Linked DNA regions of Homo sapiens: region 2 is linked to region 1. Evidence: fine-mapped expression QTL. Tissue or cell type: whole blood. Region 1 holds a variant in brackets; the other region holds the start of a gene. All regions are shown on one strand. Distances are between the middles of the regions.

Region 1 (8,196 bases):
GAGCAGAGCGGAACAGAGAAGGAGGTCCGTGAGACATCTGCACCCTGGGAGCCTAGTGCATGTGGTGTGGGGTCTGTAGGTGACCTTCTAGATAGGCTGCCCTGTTAGGACTTTCCTGGAGGAGAAAATGCCTAAGATTTTTCTTGATAACAATGTGTCTAATGAACTACACAATTTACATATAGACATATCATAAAATTCATTACACTGGTTTAAAATATAACCTTATGTCACGTTCACATTGTCTGGAACATCCATGGAGGGTGAGAGCTGGCAGAGGGTGGGGTGGAGAAAGGACATGGGAACTGGCATGTGGAGTCTGGGGCTTTTCCTTTTTGATTTTGCCTTTTTTTTTTTTTTTTTTTAACATCAAATATTGGTGGTTACCTGCTTACTTATAAAACTAGTCCAAGCAGGATTTGACATTTTCTGTATTTTTCCTTTTTATCTGATTGCTTAATTTAGAATCTTGTGCTTCTCAAGCCAGCATGCAGGAAGTAGCATAGTTTAGGGAGAAAATGGCAGGAACAGGAAAGGACTGGAGATCAGTCCTTCACTCTGGCCAGTTTCAATGCTGGTGCTCTTTTATCAGCAGCCCGAATGGAGCTCAGAGGTGATGGATGTACTAGATCCCAGGGGAAAGCTTACAAAAGGCACTCTGGAAGAACCACGGACACTGGTAGAGTTCATCTTATGGAAACTGAGTTGGTCACAAGGCATGTCTCACCTACATGTGCGTGCACTGGAGCAAAATGCCTTCACCTTTATGTTATTCATCAGACACTTGGGTGCTTAACTCATATTTTCAAAAGCTCCACCGTTTAAGGCCCCATGTTTACAGGTATCATAAAAATTAAACCAGCTGTGCTTGCATTTTAGCAATGACTGTGTGTACATCACTATCTAACAAGAGATCATCTAGCCTGGGATTTCCGTATCTTCCTTACCTCCTGTTTTTACAATCTAGGTAACAGAACTTTCGATGGGAGAGCTTCTGATGCACTCTACGGTTTCCTGGTTGAATCCATTTCTGTCTCTAGGAAAAGCTAGAAAGGACCTTGAGCTCACAGTATTTGGTTAGTATTCCATTCAGAAGAATGCAGACTGAACAGAGGCTGGGATTACGGAAGAACTTCACTAGCCGCACCAGTCCAGCTCACTCCTGAGCTCCAGGAGTCAGAATTGCTATAATGGTTGGGGACTTAACAGGGCCAGCCCCCAACTATTTGAAACTCCGGCATCGCTCTGCATCCTCATTATCTTGTTCTCCCTTCTGCTGCTTGGCTCAGGCCAAGTGTTACAGGAACAGATCCCTGCGGCTATTTTGAAACCTGCTATCTTTTTCTTTTTCTTTTTCTGAGACGAGGTTTTGCTCTTGTTGCCCAGGCTGGAGTGCAATGGTGTGATCTCTGCTCACTGCAACCTCCACCTCCCAGGTTCAAGCTATTCCCCTGCCTAAGCCTCCTGAGTAGCTGGGATTACAGGTGCTCGCCACCACGCCCGGCTGATTTTTGTATTTTTAGTAGAGATGGGGTTTCACCATGCTGGCCAGACTGGTCTCGAACTCCTGACCTCAGGTGATCCACCTGCCTCAGCCTCCTGGAGTGCTGGGATTACAGGCATTAGCCACCGTGCCTGGCCAGAAACCTGCTATCTTAATAGTCTGCTGTATTTCAAATGTTTTAATTCTGAGAGTTGGGAGAACAAGTGACAGTATATTGTCACTGAGATGAACACAGTGTCCTCAGCTTTCAATAAAACAAAGAGTTTAAAAAAGCCAAGATCAACTTCTAATAGTAGCTTTTAAATAAGCAGGTGCTTCTGCATAGTTCAAATATGAGCGAAAGGGAAGTACCATTTATTCACTCATGTTGGCAGAGTGAGGTCTTAGAGACTCATACGTTTGGAGAGTGTTACTCTGTTAAGACGTTCAGCTCTAGTTTAACCTTGGAAGAGTTTGCATAAAATAAAGACTTTCTTTCTCTTTTCCTTTCTTTAGTTTTTAAGAGAGCCGTCATACTGGTTTATAAAGAAAACTGCAAACTGAAAAAGAAATTGGTAAGGCAAAAATTCATTTTAATTTAAGCTACCTTTTCATAGCTGTATCTTCCTATTAACGTTGAACTGAAAAGCCCACTGAGCACCAAGGCTGGGCTGACTGATACTGCTTACTCTGAGGGTAACTAACCCCATCACATACTGAGAGCGTTTCTGAGTCTCCCCATGAAAGATGTCTGTTTTAAAAGAAGATATACAGCTGGGCACGGTGGCTCATGCCTGTAATCTCAGCACTTTGGGAGGCTGAGGCTTGAGCCCAGGAATTTGAGACCAGCCTGGCCAACATGGTGAAACCCTGCCTCTACCAAAAATACAAGTAACTGGGTGTGGTAGCACGTGCCTGTAGTCCCAGCTACTCGGGAGGCTGAGGCAGGAGGATCAATTGAGCCCAGGAGGTGGAAGCTGCAGTGAGCCTTGATCATGCCACTGCATTCCAGCCTGTGCGACAGAGTGAGACCCTGTCAATAAATACATAAATAAGTAAATAAAGTAGATAAATACTCATATGGGGGCCTACATAGAACATCGACTTTTATATCCCTGAAAATGGCCCATGTTTGTTCCATAAACATAGTCTGTGAAACTTTGGTTTATTTTCAAATGCCTTTTACCTTCACTCAGAAAAAAGCAAAGCCTAGCTGTGGATACCATATGCCATTGGTTTACCATTCAGAGGCAGCGTCAGGGCGTGGAAGCTTTGGCTGCTGTTCTTGCTTTGAGACCTGTAACTGCTTCTGAACCACAACTCTGCCTCCGCACCTTCCCTAGCATGTGAGGTCTTTGAGAACTGGGTGCGTAGCTGATTGACTTCTGTGCCCTGAACACCCACATGGCTGCTCGGAGACTCGCCCACAGGGAGAACATAAACTTCTATTCACTGTGCACACATCCTCCCTCAGTGACAGCTTCCCTAACACTTTTCTTGGTGGGCCTTCATGTTACAGCCCTCGAATTCCCGGCCTGCACACAACTCTACTGACTTGGACCCATTTAAATTCCGCTGGTTGATCCCCATCTCCGCGCTTCAAGTCAGACTGGGGAATCCAGCAGGTAACTGTTTCGTGCAGTATGATGCCAGAAAAAGCATTTTAGTAGACTTAACTGTGGAATGTAAATTAAGAAAGGACCTTGGGGATAATTTTTGGTGCCTTTTATTTTATAGACAAGGAAAATGAGGACAAGAGAGGTTGTTTTGATGTTCCTTAGCAGACTTCTGGGAGAAACTAAATGCTGGTGGATAGCTTTTTCTTTGCCAAATGCCTTTCATTGTTTCCTTATTTTCCCTATCAATAGTTTTCAACATTTTCCTTTCTGCCTTGATACCCTAAAATGTGTTAGAAGAACAAAGATCCACAAATTTATGTTTTTACAAATTTAGAATATAGCAGAAAATTCCTTAAGGTTAGGTAGTACTGTAGGTGATATAAAAAGAAAAAAATCTTTGACTCTGGAAAATGTTCAGAGATCCTTCCAGAGTAACCTTGTTTTGGTGACAGGTATCTGGTGACAGAAGAGGCCAGCAGGCTGAGTCATGCAGTGACCTGCTGGGCTTCTGTTTAACTTTTGTCAGAAGTGCTTATGTTTTCGAGAAAATGACCACATTTGGGGCAGGCCTCTTTTACCTCAAGTACCCCAGCTCCTGTTCCTTCCAAGGAAAGGGCAAAACTGCAAAGGAGGTTGAAGAATAGGATCCACTGAATCTCCTCTTCCCCAGAGAGGGGCTCCAGAGAGAGGGTGAAGGCAGTTCAGATGGAGGAAAATCTGCAGCAGGAAAT[G/A]TAAAAAGTAACCAAAAGGCATTTCAGTTCTTGTAACTGTGAAAATCATACATAGAACAAGCCACAGAAGAAAATGAGCCAGGACTGGGAATATTAGACTTTCTTAACTGATGAGATTTCAACTTTACAAGTGTTCTTAACCACAGCATTTTGGGCAAAGTTGTAGACTCTTGTTTCCATTTCCTTTTACATAGGGACAGAAAATAATTCCATATGGGAACTGATCCATACGAAGTCAGAAATAGAAGGACGGCCAGAAACCATCTTTCAGTTGTGTTGCAGGTATGACTGACTTCCAAAGATTAAAACCAACAGAAATAACATAGAATTATGTCTCTTAAGGGAATTTATATTTAGTGCCCTCCTGAATTTTGATGATATCAGGGTCATACTCCCCACCCTCCGAAAAAGGCAACTGAGGCCGCTAGTAGGAGACTATGTTGATTAAATAAATATCAAAATCTTAAGAGTGATCAATTCTCACCTCCTTCTGTACGGGAGGCCACATGGCACTGCTGCTGGGTGGCTGGCTGGCAGCCTGGTCCAGCAGGTGCAAGGCACAGGAACACAGGCGGGCGTGGAATGGAAGCACGATGAACACTGTGGACACTTCTGCTGTTTTCTCTCCCCCCCCACCCAGTGACAGTGAAAGCAAAACCAACATTGTTAAGGTGATTCGTTCTATTCTGAGGGAGAACTTCAGGCGTCACATAAAGTGTGAATTACCACTGGAGAAAACGTGTAAGGATCGCCTGGTACCTCTTAAGAACCGAGTTCCTGTTTCGGCCAAATTAGGTGAGAATTTTGCTAGCCTTGTGTTTATTCAACAAAATATTATGAGCTTCTGAAAAGGATATATGCTCTTGTAACATAGCTGTGACTTTTCACTTTGTAAGTCATCGAGGTACCTTTATCTCCTTTTAAGAAACCTAAACATGCCTCTTGCTCCCAGACGTTCTACTGTAAAATACAGCCACCCCCAACCCCCAGTCCCTTGTCTTCCTACCCGCTGACATAGTCCAAATGTACGATTTTGTTTCTTCCACTAAGATGTGCATGGGTCCAGGGACTTTGTTTTCCTCACTGCTGTATTCCCAGTGCTCAGAACAGTGCCAGGCATCCTGAAGGTCAATGCTGAATGAAGATCAAGAACCTTACACAGAGGGTCTCCACCTTCTGATGGTTCAACCTACAATTTTTCGACTTTACCGTGGTGTGAAAGTGACACACATTCAGTAGAAATCGTACTTCGAGTACCCAGACAACCATTCTGTTTTTTGCTTCTAGTGCAGCATTCAATACATTTCATGAGATACTCAACACTTAATTATAAAACAGGCCTTGTGTTCTGCCCAACCATAGGCTAATGTAAGTGTTCTGAGCACACTGAAGGCAGGCTAGGCTAAGCCGCAGTGGTTAGTAGGTACATTAAATGCATTCTCGACTTTCCATATTATCAACTTAACAATGGGTTGATTGGGATGTAATGCCATCTAAGTTAAGGGGCCTCTTATACTCGTTCTTAATCGATAGGGCACCAAGTAAGCATTTCAAATCACGTTGTTCTTTCTGCTTGTTTCTAAAATTTCAGCTTAAGTTTTCAGAACCTTATTTCTACATTAACTATTTTGTTATTATCTTTCTTGTTTTTAGGCTTAGAAAATGTAAAACTTCGCTTTTTCATGTCAAATCAGTGTGACCTCTTCAGATCTACCACATATTTACTATTTTCTCCATTGTCAAAATAAACTGGCCATCAAAATAACATGCTGTTATTACTTTGTAGAAACACCAAAACTGAGAACTCCCTTCCTTCTTTCAATCCAAGAGAACAGAACTACACACACACACACACACACCTATAACATAAAATTTCAGAAAGTTGTTTTGAAATTCCAGCAGAGACAGTTCTCATATGAGAGATAAAGAGCATTTTCTAGGCTGGGCATGGTGGCTCATGCCTGTAATCCCAGCACTTTGGGAGGCCAAGGCAGGTGGATCCCTTGAGCTCTTGAGAACAGGAGTTTGAGACCAACCTGGGCAACATGGCAAAACCCCATCTCTACAAAAAAAATATAAAAATTAGCCAGGCGTGATCATGCGCACCTATAGTCCCAACTACTCAGGAGGCTGAGATGGGAGGATCACTTGAGCCCAGGAGGCGGAGGTTGCAGTGAGCAGAGATCACACCACTGCACTCCAGCCTGGGTGGCAGAGCAAGACACTGTCTTTAAAAAAAAAGGGGGGGGGAGGGGCATTTTCTACTTTTAATTGAGCAGCAAGGGAAATCCACAAGGTGAGAAGATGCATAGGAATATGGTGTGATCTTCATGATCAAATTACAAAGCACCTTAGTGAAAGAAAGGAGCCTAGATTTATTATTACCAATTAACTTTTCAACTTACTCCTTGGCAAAATAAGAATCTTAGCCCATGTAGTAGTTTCTAGTGTCTAGTTCTATTTACATAATTGAGCTCTGGTAATCTAAAAATGCTGAATTGCCTAACTTACAACTGTAAACCTAAGTCAAAAATGTCCATGTTTTCAGTAGCTACATTTTTGCCTAATTACCAGGATAGTTGCTAACTGAAGTCATATCATAAAATAAAATCTTAATGTTAAATCTTACACAAGCTTTGAGGCAAACATTACACATTGTGTAACCTGTTTCTGTATCACAGCGAAATGTGTTTTTCTCACTGTAGCTTCATCCAGGTCTTTAAAAGTCCTGAAGAATTCCTCCAGCAACGAGTGGACCGGTGAGACTGGCAAGGGAACCTTGCTGGACTCTGACGAGGGCAGCTTGAGCAGCGGCACCCAGAGCAGCGGCTGCCCCACGGCTGAGGGCAGGCAGGACTCCAAGAGCACTTCTCCCGGGAAATACCCACACCCCGGCTTGGCAGATTTTGCCGACAATCTCATCAAAGAGAGTGACATCCTGAGCGATGAAGATGATGACCACCGTCAGACTGTGAAGCAGGGCAGCCCTACTAAAGACATCGAAATTCAGTTCCAGAGACTGAGGATTTCCGAGGACCCAGACGTTCACCCCGAGGCTGAGCAGCAGCCTGGCCCGGAGTCGGGTGAGGGTCAGAAAGGAGGAGAGCAGCCCAAACTGGTCCGGGGGCACTTCTGCCCCATTAAACGAAAAGCCAACAGCACCAAGAGGGACAGAGGAACTTTGCTCAAGGCGCAGATCCGTCACCAGTCCCTTGACAGTCAGTCTGAAAATGCCACCATCGACCTAAATTCTGTTCTAGAGCGAGAATTCAGTGTCCAGAGTTTAACATCTGTTGTCAGTGAGGAGTGTTTTTATGAAACAGAGAGCCACGGAAAATCATAGTATGATTCAATCCAGATATGGGTTAAATTCCTCATTTTACTTTTAAACTGGTGGTAAAGTGGAAATTGCAAAAAAAAAAAAAAAAAAAAACTGTTCATTCCTGGGTTTTGTGCAGTATACATTTTCCCACAAAATGGTTGTAAAGATTTAAGTTATTTTAATTTATTGTGGATCAGAAACCTAGATGAAACTGGTCAGAATCTGTAAATTACTTAGTTTATATCCACTTTGAGCAGGTATCAAATGATTTAGGATCCTTAAAATTACATTCTAATAATTAAGTTATGTGGAAAAAGTAAGGCTGGGGAAGTCGTGATTAATAGTTTTCAAAGGGCCATTTTTTAAAATCCTCTGGGCATTTTCTTTCAGCTGTTTGTTAGTTTTTGCTTTATTTAAAGCATATTTAAGTTATTTTAATGTGGTTTAGGGGCAAAATGTGCAGATACTTCATTTTTGTAAGATAGATTGTAATAGATGCTGTTTATACTAAACATGTCATAACTATCTATACAGTATATATTAAAAGAAAGCTTGTACTGTATCTTATTTGATGATATTTATTTTCTCTGCCAAGCTGTATAGTAAAAGGAAAATAAGTCACATCTGGTCATTGGCATTTGTATCGTCATTCTGTAAAGACAAAAGAGTACCTATATAAGAAGCTCCACGTAGTGCAAATCGACATCTGGTAGGCTGCTCGCCCCCAGGCAGCAGCTAGAGTCTGTAATTCTCTGCGTCATCCTCTTCTTTTTCTTCATTTTTGCTTTTTCTTCGCTTGAGTTCTTCTCTGAAATTATATGCAAAGAGTTGTGGGTCTTCATCACACATTTTTCTGTATACATCACAGAGGCTCTTAAAGTGTGAGATGGAGAGCTGGCGGGGCCGAAGAGTAGGGTCTATGTCTGCCAACTCTAACAGCCTGCCCGTGCTTTCCAAGCGCTGCGCTTCAGGGAATAACATTCTGAGGGGAAGACAGACAGACAGAAAAATAAGAATTTTACTTAAATTCTGCAAATCATG
Region 2 (8,175 bases), 60 kb after region 1:
CTGAGCCAAAGGTTCAGGACTCTTTTAAAATTTTAGAATTATGGAGGAATCAAAGGCCTTTAAGACATTAAGTGTTCCCCTATGAGGAAATCCCTTTACAAGATCCCTGATACAATCTATTTCACTGTTTGCCAGCGTTTTAAAAAAAGTAAGTTCCTCCTTATTTCAAATCCTCAATCCTGCCTCCCTCAATTTCCATCTATTTGTTTTAGCTCTTTCTTAGAAAAGATCAAAACAAGCTTATCCTATGTACCCCCAACCTTGGATGTGCTGCTATATACACTCTTACCCAGGGCCTCTTTTCTCCAGTTGAAACATGCCCAGTTCCTTCAACTCTCATTTCTTATACAATAACAGTGCCTGTATTTTAAAGATGCATGTATCATTTCATTTAAACCTCATCCTAAATCTATAAAAGTACAACTTCCTTCCTTCACTTAAAAAATTTACCTTATAAAAGAATGCTTAAGCTTCATAATTAGTCTCTCATGATGACAAACGTGCATATGTCTTACTCATCTTTTGTTTGTGGAAATGCTTTTTGAACCTAAATGAAGTTCTCAAAAGTCATACCAATGAGTCATTACTGGCCATTATTTATTTTTATTTATTTTTGAAGGAATGGGCCACGACATGCATAGCTATTAGCAGACTTAAAAAAAAAAATCACACAAAACAATTAATTTGTTTAGCATAAATGCTTAAAGCAGGTTTTTTTCAAGGTGTAGTCAATAGACCCTCTGAGAGTGCTTGTTAAAAATGGAGATTTCCAGATTTCTCCAGACTATGGAATCAAAATCTCTGGAATGGGGCCTTGGGGATCTATAGTTGAGGAAAAACCTACATAATCTTTGGATACCTTGGGGTTTAAGCATCATGGCATAAAGATTTAAATTCAGCTTTTGCCTCCTAAAGCAGACACTTTAAGCATCTCACCTGTAATCCAGGAATAAATCGAGTGTCCTTTTCAACCACCAGAAGTTCAGCGACGTCGGCATTAAGAATAGATCTTGTGATTCCCCCTGGCCCAGGGCCCACTTCGTAAACATAAGCATTTGTCAGATTGCCAGCTTTCCTTACAATCTTATCTAGAGGAAAAAGAGTTTTAGTTATCTCAATTAACTTGGCAAATTTCAACGTATGAAATTTAGAGAGAAAAATCTTCTATAAAAATTCAGCCATTACCCAATCAATTGATCCTTTATGTATAATATTTATTTGACTATTTAACTCTCTACCTAAATTAACATGAAGTGGCAATCGAATATGCTACCACATCACCATTGAACTGTACCAGTCCCTTAACACACACAGGATTATCATGACAAAGTTTCTTAGCTTAAATTTAGCTAATATTGTAGTTTCCATCTGTCCCATGCAAATTCCTTTCAAACTGATTTGAAACCAACCGACTCCTAAGAACAGACTGGATAAGAATGCAGCACTTTTCTATAGTTATTGAACATTGAATATCTGAATAAGCAATACTAGTTTCACATTCAGAATCTTCAGTATTGCTAGTGAAATCCAAAAGCAAAAAGTGCTGAAGTCTTATTTTTATCTAGAGACATCTTGGTGGTGGTCACTATGGCAATGGCAATAAGTTCTTAGATCGTAAGATTTTCAGAAATTTGAATTCTTAGTCATTTTCAGGAAAAAGTTAAATTGAGCAGTTGAGGGTTTTTAAAGCTTTGCACACATGCATGTTAATACAGAAAAATTAATTTTTTAATTAATCAAATTCAAGTTAGCAGCCCTTAAGACATCATAAAAAGGTAGAGTACTGACTCTGTGCAACCAGTCATCACATCTGGAAAAACATGCAATGGGCTGGTCTTAGTGATTCTGAGATATGGAAATCCAAGGAACTGGTCTTCCTAGGATAGTGGAAATTTAGTCACTAAAAACATACCAGCACTTCTTGTAGGTGTTCACAGTCCTATTTTTGCTTGTTTTCAACAACATAACTTTGTCAGCTAAAATGCGGAAACTAGTTTCTCAGCCATCCAAAAATGGTTTAGTCTTTTAACAGGGAGGGAATTAGCATCCACTGACCATCTTATCTATTATGATGGATTTACACACATTCTCACCTAATCCTTACATGTTAACCAAGGACTCCTATCCCAATTTCATTTCTCTTAACTTTTCAGTTTCCTTGTCTATTGTTTTATTTGTACAAGGTCATGGACTTCAACATAGGTATAAATCCTAAAGCCAATGCCTCTCAGAGGGAACAGGAATGATACATTATGGAATAAATTTAATACTCTCCTTCTTTAAAATGGAGAGCTACAACAGTAGGCAGGTCTCTGCTCTCAAACTTTTCAGGCACATTGAAATACAAATGAATATTAAAGAAGCGCTATCAAATCAATGAGCTTGGATTTCAATCTTGCTCTCTTCTGCCTGAGCTTCTAACCTCAGCTAAGTACCCTCATCTCCGTTAACTCTGGTTCCCATAGAAAGAGTGGATAATATCTAGAATTTGAAACTTACTCCTGAAGATAAAGGCTCATGAGAAAATGTATTTGAAGGATTTTAAAAAATACACAGACCTATAACTTCTGCCCTGAGAATGGTGATTTATATTTAGAATGTGGCTAATAACAAGCAGAAAAGGCTGGTACTAGCTATTACTAGAACCAAAGAATTTTAGAGTGGGCAATCTTTTAAAGTAGTAGGCCCTTCTTCCAATTAAAAGATGAGGAAACTACTGGACATGGTGGCTCACACCTGTAATCCCAACACTTTGGAAGGCCGAGGCGAGTGGATCACTTGAGATCAGGAGTTTGAGACCAGCCTGAGCAACATAGTGAAACCCTGTCTTTACTAAAAACACAAAATTAGCTAGGCACGGTGGCTCACGCCTGTAATCCTAGCTACCTGGGAGGCTGAGGCACGAGAATCACTTGAACCGGGGAGGCGGAGGTTGCAGTGAGCTGAGATCATGCCATTGCACTCCAGCTTGGGCAACAAGAGTGAAACTCCATCTTAAAAAAAGAAAAAAAAAAAAAAGAGAAAACTTGAGTTAAATTATTTTATCCAAAGTCATATTGGTACAGGCAGAATAAAGACTACATGTCCAAGAAATAAAACATTTTATGTTTTCTGGAGTGTGCTTCATTTAAGTGAAAATGAACTTTTTGGGTGTGATTTACTGCTCTTTTCAACTTCTGAAGTGGGACTAAATAGAATGAAATATGAAAATCTCAAAACCTAAGTACTCCAGCCGTGACTTAGTAGACGTATTTGTAATATATTTTTGCAACCTCATCTCATAGAACATCACTAAGCAATGGTGATGGTGGTTAAACCAATATATAAATACATTCGTCAAAACTCATCAAATTGAGCACTTCAAACTTATTAATTTTATTGCACATAAATTATATCTCATAAAAAGTAACTTTAAACAATTAGGTGTGGGAATGTAAACTTGCTAAAAGTAAGCTCCTCGAGGAAACACCGCCTTGTTCACGCCCATATCCTACCCCCGGCACTAGCACAATGTTGCTTGTGTAATATGTACTTATGAATGAATATTAGCGCCCCCGAGGCTTAGACTGAACAGGTAAACGTTTAAAAAACGAATCATACGAGGGATACTCTTTTCACCAAGTTATTGATAAAATCCTCGCATCAATTTAAATTCTGGTAACTTTAAACTGCATGTAAAGCAACTGCAGTCAGCATGTGCTGTACTATTTCAGAATGATTGATTTCACAGTGACCCAGATTCCAATATTCACTAGCGCCTTTCACGACCCATGAACCCTTCCTCCCCTAGGGAGCTTGGCATTTATGCAGCCTGCCGGCAGGCTACACCCCCCCGAACGCGGAGTTTTGTGAGCAATCAACGCACTTCACGTGTCTCCTGGGCGGTGGGACCGGAGTTCTGATACAAAGAGGTCGAAGGACCTGACCAAAAGCCCGTCGCACGCCAGTGCCTGGACACCCGCCCGCGGGGACGTGCAAGACCCCCCGGCCCACGCCCCCACGGACACTGGGGAGACATCCGGGGAGCACTGCTAAGCCATCCACCTGTCAGCCTCAAGTCCAGGAGGAAATTCTGTGATAGCTGCTTCGCTGCTTGCAGTCTTAACAACTTAATGATTTCTCGAATCGTGGGCAACGGAGGGAGACGGCAAGTGCTGAGTTTTCCGGAGGCAGCCATGATACGCGGCAAGCACCATCCAACCCTACCTCACCCAGGACCTTCACCGCCGCTCCGAAAGAAACGCGCAGGGGAGGAACCTGCGAGACCTAAGGCCCGCCTCGGAGTCAGCCCCATTGGTCAGACCTATCCCACCGGAAGCGATGACCGCGGACAGGAAATTCCCGGCGTGCTGAGAGCGCATGCGCTAAGTCCTGCCGCGAGAAGGGCAGGCTGGGTGGTCGGCGGCTTCCGCCTGTGAGAGCCGGGGGAGAGCCGGGTGGACTAGGCTTCTCCTGGGCGGGCTATGGGGAGAGCGCCCAGGAGGGCGGGACGAGGCGGGGCCTGGACAGGGTGGGGTTTTTCGGAGGAGTTGCTCTGAGAGGTGCAGCCGGTTTACTCCCGCCCTGAAGTTCCCAAGGGCTTCCGGCTCTTTAACGTTCTAAATACCTGTCTGTGAATATTAGAGGAAAAGCGGGTGCTTAGAGGCAAAGCTACTGTTTGTTAGCAATTCTTTCTTACTGTGAGGCGTTTTTAGAACCGCCGCTCTGCAGATGCTGCATGATGGGTTTTTAACTTCGTTCAGCCTCAGTTTTTTCATCAGTTAAATGGAGCTAATGTCTACCTCAAAATTGTGAGCACTAAATGAGAGAGATCGCCTGGTGTGCACGTTCAGAACATAGTGCACGCATGGCATTGGGTAAGCTCCCACGTGATCAGTGGTGGCTGTTATTATTTGGCAGATGAATAATTGGCCAGTGTAAAGAGGTCATTCGATTTGCTAGGATTACAGCTAAGAACAGAGAGAAGACTGAAATATGAGTTCTGTCTTTCCGTTATACGAGATAAAAACAACGAAGCAAAAAAAAAAAAAAATTAAAGTTTCTCTGATAGGTGGGAGAATTTTGCTGTTTTAACCCTGCTTATGTTTGGACATTGCTGCGTTGATCACAAATGAATTTTAAAGTTTCTGTTCCTCAATTAGTAAGTTTTTAAAAAAGCTAATGGAAAACGAAACAACTATGGGTATGGATATAAAAATGAGGAGTACTTTGAAATTCCAGTGGAAAACTCAACCACCTTCTATAAAAGCTGTTTTAAAAGGAACTGAGATAATCTCCTAGCTTTAAAAAATAGTGATGACTACCATAGAGGTAAGGAGATTTGCCCAACGTGGCATCAAAATGTAGACTGGAAGTACAAACTCTTGATTCAGATATCTTATCGTCCAAAACACAGTATACCTGACAAAGCATTATTTCACAGTTATATTCATTATTTCCCGTACTCCTCACAATGGTCCCATGTGAATGAGATTATTATTCTTAGTTTGCTGTGAAGAAATAGGGGAGGTGAGGTCATTTGACAATGCCCAGAGTCAGACAGCAAAGTACAGAGAGAAGACAACCTGAGTTGTGTTTTTTCTGAGTTCTGATCTCACTGGCCACACTCAAGTATCAGCTTATTATTTTTAAGTTAATATGTGTTAATTTTGTAACATCTAAATATATAGAAATACGAATCTAGGTGTAAACATAAGCTTACAGTTTTCATATGACTATTTAAAACAATTGCAATAAATATATACAAAACCAATACAAATGGTCTTATTAATTGACAAGGATGAACACTGTTAAATCACGACACTTAGTGCTAACTGGCAGGTTTTCTTTTTTTTTTTTTTTTAAGTTTCAGCCTACCAGTGATCCAGTGTGCCATGTAATGACTGAATGTTCTCATTAGTTTTCTGGAGTCAAACTATTACCAAATCTTTGTTCAATTTTTTTTCCATTGTCGCTTGTCTTTCTTTTGGAAGAATATGGAAGCTACATATTAAGTCTGCCTGCATCTGTTTTCAGTAGCTTGGAAACAAGTGAATTTGAATTATTTGGCACTAATGCTACCATGAACACACACGTTGTGTAACAGGTATAAAGAGGATGTTCAGATGACCCCAAATATAATCACATGAGCTTTTTAAAAGATTAACATCAACATAAAAACAAACTAAAATCTAAATGAGTGAAACACCTTTGCGTGGAGAATTTGTAGATTCCTGATAATTTGTCCCCAGATCTAAATATGAATTTATGGATGGTTTATACCATGCCATCTTCAATAACTGAACCTATTTATAAAGCAGCTTCCTTTGTTACTTAATTCTCATTTCAATTCTGTGATGTAGGTTCACAAAGATGTGTCTTAGTTCATTCCTGCTGCTATAACAAAATATCTGAGACTGGGTAATTTATAAAGAACAGAAATGTACTTCTCACAGTACTGGAGGCTGAAAGTCCAAGATCAAGGAGCTGGCAAGTTTGTTGCCTTGTGAAGGCTGCTCTCTTTACCTCAAGATAGCATCTTGTTGCTGCATCCCCCAGAAAAGAGGAATGTCATGTCCTCACATGTCCAAAGGCAGAAGGGCAAAAAGGGATTAGCTAATTCCCTCCAGCTCTTCATAAGGTTGCTAATCCCATTTATGAGAGCTCTACCTCAATCAATTAATCACCCACTTAGGGCCTCCCTGTCAATATACTATCACATTGGTGATTTAGTTTCAGCACATGAATTTTGGGGGACATTCAGACCATAGCACAGTGCTTTGCTAGTAAGTGGTGTAACTGAGTTTAGATCTTCTGACTGCACTGTGCTTTTTATTAACCTCTGATACGTGTTAAATAATTTTTTAACTGAGTTAAAAATTCTAGCTTAGGAGAATCTTCCAAGTTTTTAATAGTTCTTGAGATCCAATTTTTATCATAAATATCTAATCCTCAGTTTTTAATTTTCAGAAAATTATGCATAACTCCCTGCAAAAGCCTAAGAAATCAGCAGGGGGTGTTTTAGTAGTGTATTTCACATATTAATGCAAATGGTTTTATCCCTTAAAAGAGAGGTATGCAGTTTCATCAGTTTTGAAGCTTTGAAGTGTCTGCTTCATCTAGATACAGATTTTAATATGCTAAAATATTATAATTAATACAGAAATCACTAGCCCCACCTGTCAGTGAAGATGAAGAACTACAAATGATTCATGCTAAACTATATTGTAGTATTCTAATTTGCGTAAAATCCCAAAATGATTATGTAGGAAAATTACTTATTATTTTAGTATTTACTTTAATAAAAATGCATATGTGACTTTATTTGGTATAAGTGATTTAGTCTCTATTTATAGAAAAAGTGCTAATTTTAAAAGGTTGTCATTTTACCGTTCCCTGAAAGAGACTTGAAAGCTGCAGAGAGCAATATCTTCCTGCCATGTGGGAATTTTCAGAGAAAATTAAATGTGGCTTGGAATTGCCAAATTGAACTTTATAAAATGACTATTATGGTATGTAAAGTGCCCTTTTCCGATAGTATTTTATAATTACATATAATATGATTCAATGCTCCAGAGAAATACTAAGAGCTGCATTTCACACATATTTAGGGTTTTTTTTGTTTTAATGGCTCTTTGATGCACACTGTTCATTCACAAAGGAATCTAGTGACCTACCTAGAGGGAAGAAGGAAAAACGTGATAACTCTGAGCAGACGGACCAAATGCTTATTCTGTGGGGATAGAAGTAGGGCAACTTATGGCAACAACACGAGCTAATTGCCTGAGGGAACCATGGAACACTTACACTATTTTTGAAAATACAGCGTTTATCCCTGTTTCAAGCAGTATTTGAAAGCCTGCTCATTGTCCCCAAAGGTCTGTGAATTATTGCCAAGTATCCTAATAAGATGTTGAGGATGGGCAACTCGTTCGACTCAGGGAGCTATGGGTAGGGCTTTTTCCTATACAGTAAGCAAACCTTTTTGTGAATGAAGAAAATATGCTAACAGCATTATAAACGAATTAGCCTTTATTATATAGGCAAACCTTTGAGATACTATGGGTTCAGTATCAGACCACCAAAATAAAGTGAATATCTCCATAAAGTGAGACAGATGAAGTTTTTGGTTTCCCAGTGCATATGAAAGGTATGCATACATTCTATTGTTGTCTATTAAGTGTGCAATAGCATTAT

The links. PIP is the estimated chance that this variant, and not a neighbour inherited with it, causes the effect.
Region 2: it holds the start of TFB1M, and the variant in region 1 is fine-mapped to the expression of TFB1M in whole blood (TOPMed, PIP above 0.99). The same link has a PIP of 0.9 or more in lung.

The regions. Positions count from the first base shown.
Region 1 is chr6:155,249,946-155,258,141 of GRCh38, forward strand. It overlaps TIAM2 (TIAM Rac1 associated GEF 2), which reads left to right. Exons shown (of 27, transcript NM_012454.4): 21 at 1-24; 22 at 968-1,076; 23 at 2,000-2,058; 24 at 3,003-3,108; 25 at 4,028-4,115; 26 at 4,474-4,628; 27 at 6,539-7,778. The coding sequence ends at 7,176. It overlaps TFB1M (transcription factor B1, mitochondrial), which reads right to left. Exons shown (of 7, transcript NM_016020.4): 7 at 6,189-8,137. The coding sequence ends at 7,891. Among named protein-coding and RNA genes, the nearest start is that of CLDN20, 10 kb to the right of the region's middle. RefSeq lists enhancers at 3,838-4,412, 4,413-4,986. The variant G/A (reference allele first, on the strand shown) is at 3,834.
Region 2 is chr6:155,310,252-155,318,426 of GRCh38, forward strand. TFB1M (transcription factor B1, mitochondrial) reads right to left here and starts at 4,233. Exons shown (of 7, transcript NM_016020.4): 1 at 4,045-4,233; 2 at 937-1,088. The coding sequence starts at 4,177. RefSeq lists enhancers at 4,008-4,327, 4,326-5,316, 4,398-4,447, 4,998-5,047 and a silencer at 4,498-4,577.